Linked DNA regions of Homo sapiens. The protein of the gene in region 2 interacts with the protein of the main gene of each other region in a pairwise test. Each region holds a gene or a part of one and is shown on either strand. Other genes may lie near its edges.

Evidence for each region. The genes of interacting proteins can lie anywhere in the genome.
Region 1: the proteins of PECAM1 (region 2) and JUP interact in binary tests that used the Homo sapiens proteins (3 or more experiments, as listed by UniProt).

The regions. Positions count from the first base shown.
Region 1 is NC_000017.11:41,780,212-41,783,907, forward strand, and holds part of JUP (junction plakoglobin), read right to left. Parts: intron 1-3,696. UniProt on the Homo sapiens protein: Common junctional plaque protein. The membrane-associated plaques are architectural elements in an important strategic position to influence the arrangement and function of both the cytoskeleton and the cells within the tissue.
Region 2 is NC_000017.11:64,359,769-64,363,493, forward strand, and holds part of PECAM1 (platelet endothelial cell adhesion molecule precursor), read right to left. Parts: intron 3,630-3,725; coding exon 3,381-3,629; intron 648-3,380; coding exon 372-647; intron 1-371. UniProt on the Homo sapiens protein: Cell adhesion molecule which is required for leukocyte transendothelial migration (TEM) under most inflammatory conditions.

The DNA of each region.
Region 1 (3,696 bases), about 23 Mb from region 2:
CATAGCAAGACCCTGTCTCTACACAAAACTTTAAAAATTAGCTGGGCATGGTGGTGCACACCTGTGGACCCAGCTACTTGGGAGGCTGGGCGGGAGGATTGCTTGAACCCAGGAATTCAAGGATGCAGTGAGCTGTGATCACGCCACTGCACTCTAGCCTAAGGGACAGAGCGAGTCCCTACCTCAAAAAAAGGAAAGAAGGCCGGGCGCAGTGGCTCACGCCTGTAATCCCAGCACTTTGGGAGGCTGAGGTGGGTGGATCACTTGAGGTCAGGAATTCAAGACCAGCCTGGCCAACATAGTGACACCCCCATCTCTACTAAAAATACAAAAATTAGCTGGGCATGGTGGCGCATGCCTGTAGTCCCAGCTACTTAGGAGGATGAGGCAGGAGAATTGCTTGAACCTAGGAGGCAGAGGTTGCAGTGAGCCAAGACTGCACTACTGCACTCCAGCCTGGGCGACAGAGCAGGACTCCATCTCAAAAAACAAACCAAAAAAAAAAAAGAAAGAAAAGAGAAGAGGAGAAGGGAGGAGGAAAGAAAGCTGAGTGCCAAAAGCGGTGGCTCACGCTTATAATCCCAGCATGTCGGGAGGCCAAGGTGAGTGGATCACCTGAGGTCAGGAGTTCAAGACCAGCCTGACCAATATGGTGAAACCCCGTCTCTACTAAAAATACAAAAATTAGGCCGGGCACAGTGGCTCACGCCTGTAATCCCAGCACTTTGGGAGGCCGAGGCGGGTGGATCATGAGGTCAGGAGATCGAGACCATCCTGGCAAACACAGTGAAACCCCGTCTCTACTAAAAACACAAAAAAATTAGCCAGGCGTGGTGGCGGGCGCCTGTAGTCCCAGCTACTCGGGAGGCTAAGGCAGGAGAATGGTGTGAACCCAGGGGGCGGAGCTTGCAGCGAGCGGAGATCGTGCCACTGCACTCCAGCCTGGGCGACAGAGTGAGTGAGACTCCGTCTCAAAAAAAAAAAAAAAAAAAAATTAGCTGGGCGTACTGGCAGGCGCTTGTAGTCCCAGCTACGCGGGAGGCTGAGACAGGAGAATCACCTGAACCCGGGAGATGGAGGTTGCAGTGAGCCAAGATTGTGCCACTACACTCCAGTCTGGGTGACAGAGTGAGAGACTCCATCTCAAAAAAAAAAAAAGAAAGAAAGAAAGAGAAAAAGAAAGCTGAGCTTCCTGCTCTGCTGGCCCCAAAGGCCAAGATGCCAGGAGGCTGAGCAAAGGAGAGTGGTCCATGAGCTTGCCCTTCAGGCCTGGCAGAGGAAGTCGCTTCACAATAAGATATTCCATGTCCCCAGACTCAACCATGTCCCAGGAGAGGCCGCTCAGTGTCACTTGCAGGAACACAAGCCCTGGTGACCTGCCCAGCCACACTGCTTGCTTTTCCTCTTCACAGGGGTCACAGGACCAGCTCACAGATGCCTTTCCCTCTCACTGCCAGGTCGCTCTTCTCCCAAAAGATACAAATGAGGAGTCTCCCCAAAGGGCAGCAATTCCTGTCTGGCCTCCCTGCCGCACAGGATGGCCCTCATCAGAGAAGAGTCAATGCTGAGTCTCCACCTCTCCCTCTTATTTCTCAACTCAAGATTTCATCTTTAGCAGGCAGAAAGCCCCTCCTCCTGTCTAGACTGCGTCCCTTCAGTAAGTGCATCGGGCCTGCAGCTCTCAAGTCCTCGGGGGAGATGGAAAAACTGCAACCTCATGCCCTCTTTGTAGTAGTCAGTGGGATGGGGTTCATTCTGTTTTCTTCTCTGTCTCAAGTCCCATTAGCCTTCTCCACGATCAATAATCCCGTTGCCTGGGGTCCCCGCCTGCCCTCAGGGAATCCAGAAGCGCGGTAGTGACAGGTTCAGTACTCCGGCTGCACCATCACATAAAGAGAACCCATTTCCCAGACCCCAAATCCAGGCCCATTCTGGTGTCAGATGTCCAGTTGGCAGAGACACCAGAACCAGGCAGGTCTGGAGAACAATCTGACACCAGCTCCTCCCTAGAGGGCCAAGGCTCTGGCTGACAGGCAGCACACATGACCCCCACCTCCATCACCAGAAAAGCCCTCCCAGCAGCTGCCTATCTCAGGTCTCTTGGGCTTCAGAGCAGAGGACAGCCAGTTCCCCATCAAGAGCAGCCTGGCAGCACTGCCTCGTCAACTCCAGCAGGACATTAGCCCAGGCCTAAATCGGACTCTCGTTTCTCGCCAATCCCCACAGGGCAGCACCCCTTTATCTTGGCATAGCCCCAGCCCCCAGCAAAGCAGGCAACTCCCACTTCCTACACATGAACAAGCCCAGAACAGCCATGGTTCTACCTAACCCAAGCTAGGAGGCAGCACAGCTTTGACCCCTGCCTCCTCTTTCCCTCTCAACCTCCCCCCAACACTCACCACAGCCCTGGCCTTGGGGAGAAGCCGCTTCCACCGGAAACTAAAAATCAAGCCACTGGGGAGATTTAAGTGGGCTGGTGGCCAGGACAGGTATCACCCCCACCTACAAAACCTGCCCTACATTCACCACTCACACATGCCTTCATGGGCCCTTCTGAATTCTCTTCTCCCCAGTCAGGCAGAGGCTCTCAAAAGGGGGTGCAGAAAAATCCTTTCCGCTCACACCTGTAATCCCAGCACTTTGGGAGGCTGAGGCGGGCGGATCTCCTGAAGGTCAGGAGTTCGAGACCATCCTGACCAACATGGTGAAACCCCATCTCTACTAAAAATACAAAAATTAGCCTAGTGTGGTGGTGCATGCCTGTAATCCCAGCTACTCGGGAGGCTGAGACAGGAGAATCGCTTGAACCCAGGAGGTAGACGTTACAGTGAGCCGAGATCGCGCCACTGCACTCCAGCCTGGGTGGCAGAGCGTGACTCCATCTCAAAAAAAAAAAAAAAATCCTTTCCAGAGCTGCATGGGGCAATACAGCAGGATGGGTTCTGGGCTTGGAATCAGAGGACCCAAACGTCAGTCTTGGTGCTGCTTGGGTCTCGCTGTACAACATTGGGGAAATTACTTAAGTTCCTTGAGTTTCAATTTCCTCCTCTGTAGAATGCGAATAATGATACGCGTTTTTTTTGTTTTTTTTTTTTTTTTGAGTCAGGGACTCACTCTGTTGCCCAGGCTGGAATACAGTGACACAGCTCACTGCAGCCTTGACTTCCCTGGGCTCAGGTAATCCTCCCACCTCAACATTCCCAGTAGCTGGGACCACAGGCATGCACCACCACGCCCGGCTAATTTTTCTATTTTTTTGTAGAGACAGGGTTTCTCCATGTTGCCCAGGCTGGTCTGGAACTCCTGGGCTCAATCAAGCAGTCCACCCTTCTGGGCCTCCTAACGTGCTGGGATTGCAGGTCTGAGCCATCCAGCCTGGCCAGCCATAAGGATTAAGTAAAAATAGTTAATGAAAGTGCTTGGTTTGGGCCAGGTGAGGTGGCTCACGCCTGTAATCCCAGCACTTTGGGAGGCCGGGGCGGGCGAATCACGAGGTCAGGAGATCAAGACCAGCCTGCGCAACATGGTGAAACCCTGTCTCTACTAAAAATACAAAAATCAGCCGGGGGTGGTGGCACACGCCTGTAATCCTGGCTACTCAGGAGGCTGAGGCAGGAGAATCACTTGAACCCAGGAGGCGGAGGTTGCAGTGAGCCTGGGTGACAGAGCGAGACTCCATCTCAAAAAAAAAAAAAA
Region 2 (3,725 bases):
TTTAGATGGAGTTTCGCTCTTGTTGCTCAGGCTGGAGTGCAATGGCGCAACTTGGCTCAGTGCAACCTCTGCTTCCTGGGTTCAAGCAATTCTCCTGCCTCAGCCTCCCGAGTGGCTGGGATTATAGGCGCACGCCACCATGCCCAGCTAATTTTTGTATTTTTAGTAGAGATGGGGTTTCACCATGTTGGCCAGGCTGGTCTTGAACTCCTGGCCTCAATGATTCACCGGCCTTGGCCTCCTAAAGTGCTGGGATTACAGGCATGAGCCACCGCACCTGGCCCCCTACTTCTCTTATTGTTCCCACAGTCCCTGGGCGTGAAAGAATGCCCCAAGCCCACATGATTTCTTCTCACAGCACAGCAACTTACCTATCACCTTCACCCTCAGAACCTCACTTAACATTTTGGCATGGGAATGGCAATTATCTGCAACACACTGGTATTCGACGTCTTCAGTGGGGTTGTCTTTGAATACCGCAGGATCATTTGAGTTCTTGGTACTATTCTCCAAAACTTTACTTGTTTTTAAAAGTTGGTAAGAAATAGGCAAAGTTCCACTGATCGATTCGCAACGGACTTCGATGGTCTGTCCTTTTATGACCTCAAACTGGGCATCATAAGAAATCCTGGGCTGGGAGAGCATTTCTAGAACAGAGGGAGAAACAATCCAAAAGGCACTGAAGGTAAAAGCAAAGCATCCAGCACAAGAGGTTCCTCCTCCAAAGCCTGAGCTTTGCTTTCTATCCCTGCTGTAATTTCAAATGCCTGCCTGCCTTATTTACCTTTATAGGACACCTATGAGACTGACAGGCTGTGTGTGTGTGTGTGTGTGTGTGTGTGTGTGTGTGGTGAGAAGGGAAAGGGAAAGAGAAGTACAATAAGCAAAACAGAGAATGACAGAAATTCAAGGAAAACATTACATCCCCAGAAATACATGTTCATATTTTACCATATCTCACACGCACATGCACACATAATATACTTTTCTTGTGTTGAGCAAAGACACAGAAAACATAGAAAAAGTACAACAAGTAGCCAACAAAATGTGTGTGTGTGTGTGTGTGTGTGTGTGTGTATTTGAGACAGGGTCTCACTCTATTACCCAGGCTGGAGTGCACTGGTGCGATGACAGCTCACTACAACCTCCCAGAATCAAGCAATCCTCCTACCTCAGCCTCCCGAGTAGCTGGGACTATAGGTGCACACCACACCTGGCTAATTCTTTATTTTTTGTAGAGACAGGGTCTCACTATGTGCTCAGGCTGGTCTTGAACTCCTGGACTCAAGTGATCCTCCCACATCAGCTGCCCAAAGTGCTGGGATTATAAGTATGAGCCACCACACCTGGCTGAGCATATATGTGTGTGTGTGTGTGTGTGTGTGTGTGTGTTCTGAGACCGAGTCTTGCTCTGTCACCCAGGCTGGAGTGCAATGGCGCAATCTCAGCTGACCACAACCTCCACCTCCTGGGTCCAAGGGATTCTCCTGCCTCAGCCTCCCGAGTAGCTGGGATTACAGGCATGTGCCACCACACCCGGCTAACTTTTGTATTTTTAGTAGAGAGGGGGTTTCACCATGTTGGCCAGGCTGGCCTCAAACTCCTGACCTCAGGTGATCCACCCACCTTGGCCTGCCAAATTGTTGGGATTACAGGTGTGAGCCACCAGGTCCAGCCAATATATATGTTTTTAAATTATTCTCAGCCAGTCACGGTGGCTCATGCCTGTAATCCCAGCACTTTGGGAGGCCGAGGTGGGCAGATCACCTGAGGTCAGGACTTTAAGACCAGCCTGACCAATGTAGAGAAACCCCGTCTCTACTGAAAATACAAAATTAGCTGGGCAAGGTGGCACATGCCTGTAATCCTAGCTACTCGGGAGGCTGAGGCAGGAGAATCGCTTGAACCCGGGAGGCAGAGGTTGCAGTGAGCCGAGATCATGTCATTGCACTCCAGCCTGGGTAACAAGAGCAAAACTCCATCTCAAAAAAAAAAAAAAAAAAAAAAGATAAAAAAAGTCTTCTTAGTGCTTCAGCCTCTTAACAGATAAGAATTATATTAGGTCATTATTTAGGCATTAGTTTATTTAAACCTTATACAATGAGATTTCCTCCTCCCAAGAACAAAAAATAAAATAAAACGTTATAACACACATTTGTCTCTTGCATTCCTGCCTTTTGAGTTAGGTGGTTAGAGCATTAAAAATAGGCTAAAATCCTGGTTCAGTTGAAGCTATAATAAAATCTTAGCTGGATAAAACACAGCCACAGGTTAAATGAAAGGATCGTGACTGAATAATATAGTGACAGTGACAACTTGACTGGAGTTCTATAATCAACCAGAATCTCGCCACCCAAAGTGTGGTCCAGAGACCAACAGCATCCACATCACCAAAATGCTAGTTAGAGATGCAGAACCTGGCCCCATCTGGGCCTAAAATACTGAATCATAACCTGTATTTTAACCAGGTCTTGCATGCACATTCAGGCCTGAGAAGCCCAGCTCCTGGTGGTCAAATACCTACATTCTGTCCACTGGAAGTCTTACCCTTTTGGGTTAGCCAGGATACAGATTTAAAAAATGGAATTTTGATATTCTTGGCCGGGTGTGGTGGCTCAGGCCTGTAATCCCAGGACTTTGGGAGGCTGAGGCAGGCAGATCACGAGGTCAGGAGATGGAGACCATCCTGGCTAACACGGTGAAACCCCATCTCTACTAAAAATACAAAAAAATATTATCCGGGCGTGGTTGCGGGTGCCTGTAGTCCCAGCTACTTGGGAGGCTGAGGCAGGAGAATGGCGTGAACCCAGGAGGCGGAGCTTGCAGTGAGCCCAGATTGTGCCACTGCACTCCAGCCTGGGTGACAGAGCGAGACTGCATCTCAAAAAAATAAATAAATAAATAAATAAAAGTAATAAAAATAAAAATACAAAAATTAGGCAGACATGGTGGTGGGCACCTGTAATCCCAGCTACTTGGGAGGCTGAGGCAGGAGATCACTTGAACCTAGGAGGCAGAGGTTGCAGTGAGCTATCGTGCCACTGCACTCTAGCCTGGGCGACACGTCTCAAAAAAAAAAAAAAGAAAAGTTTAACATTGACTAAGTAGTGTTTCCTTCCTGAACTTTTGGGTGGGTACTTGCTCCAGGAGGCAGAATCTTGCCAGAATCTTAGCAAGTCAGAGGCCACATCATCATCAGTGAATCAGTGTTCTGAGCAGGAATACCTCCTTGTTTCTTTGGCCTTTGATTTCGCACTTCTCTCCCTCTAGTTCTTACCCTGCCTGAGTCTGCTCAGACCGGAGAGGGCGGCAGCTGCAGATAAATTTCCTTTCTCCCATTCAACCCTGGATGTCCTCTGAGTCAGCAACAATATACTCACCACATACGACTATCTGGACTGTGTTGCTTTTCTTGACCACTTTGTCAATACCTGCAGTGCAGATATACGTCCCACTGTCCGACTTTGAGGCTATCTTGGTGAAATCTTGAGTCTGTGACACAATCGTATCTTCCTTCTGGATGGTGAAGTTGGCTGGAGGTGCTCCTGGGATGGAGCAGGACAGGTTCAGTCTTTCACCTTGGTCCAGATGTGTGAAGGAAGATTCCAGTTCGGGCTTGGAAAATAGTTCTGAAAAACAGTGAGTGGGAATGGAGCGAGATGTGTCTGGCCACCACCCTAAAGACCCTTCCTGGAGAGGCCCTTGGCTCAGGTGCTCTTGGCAGA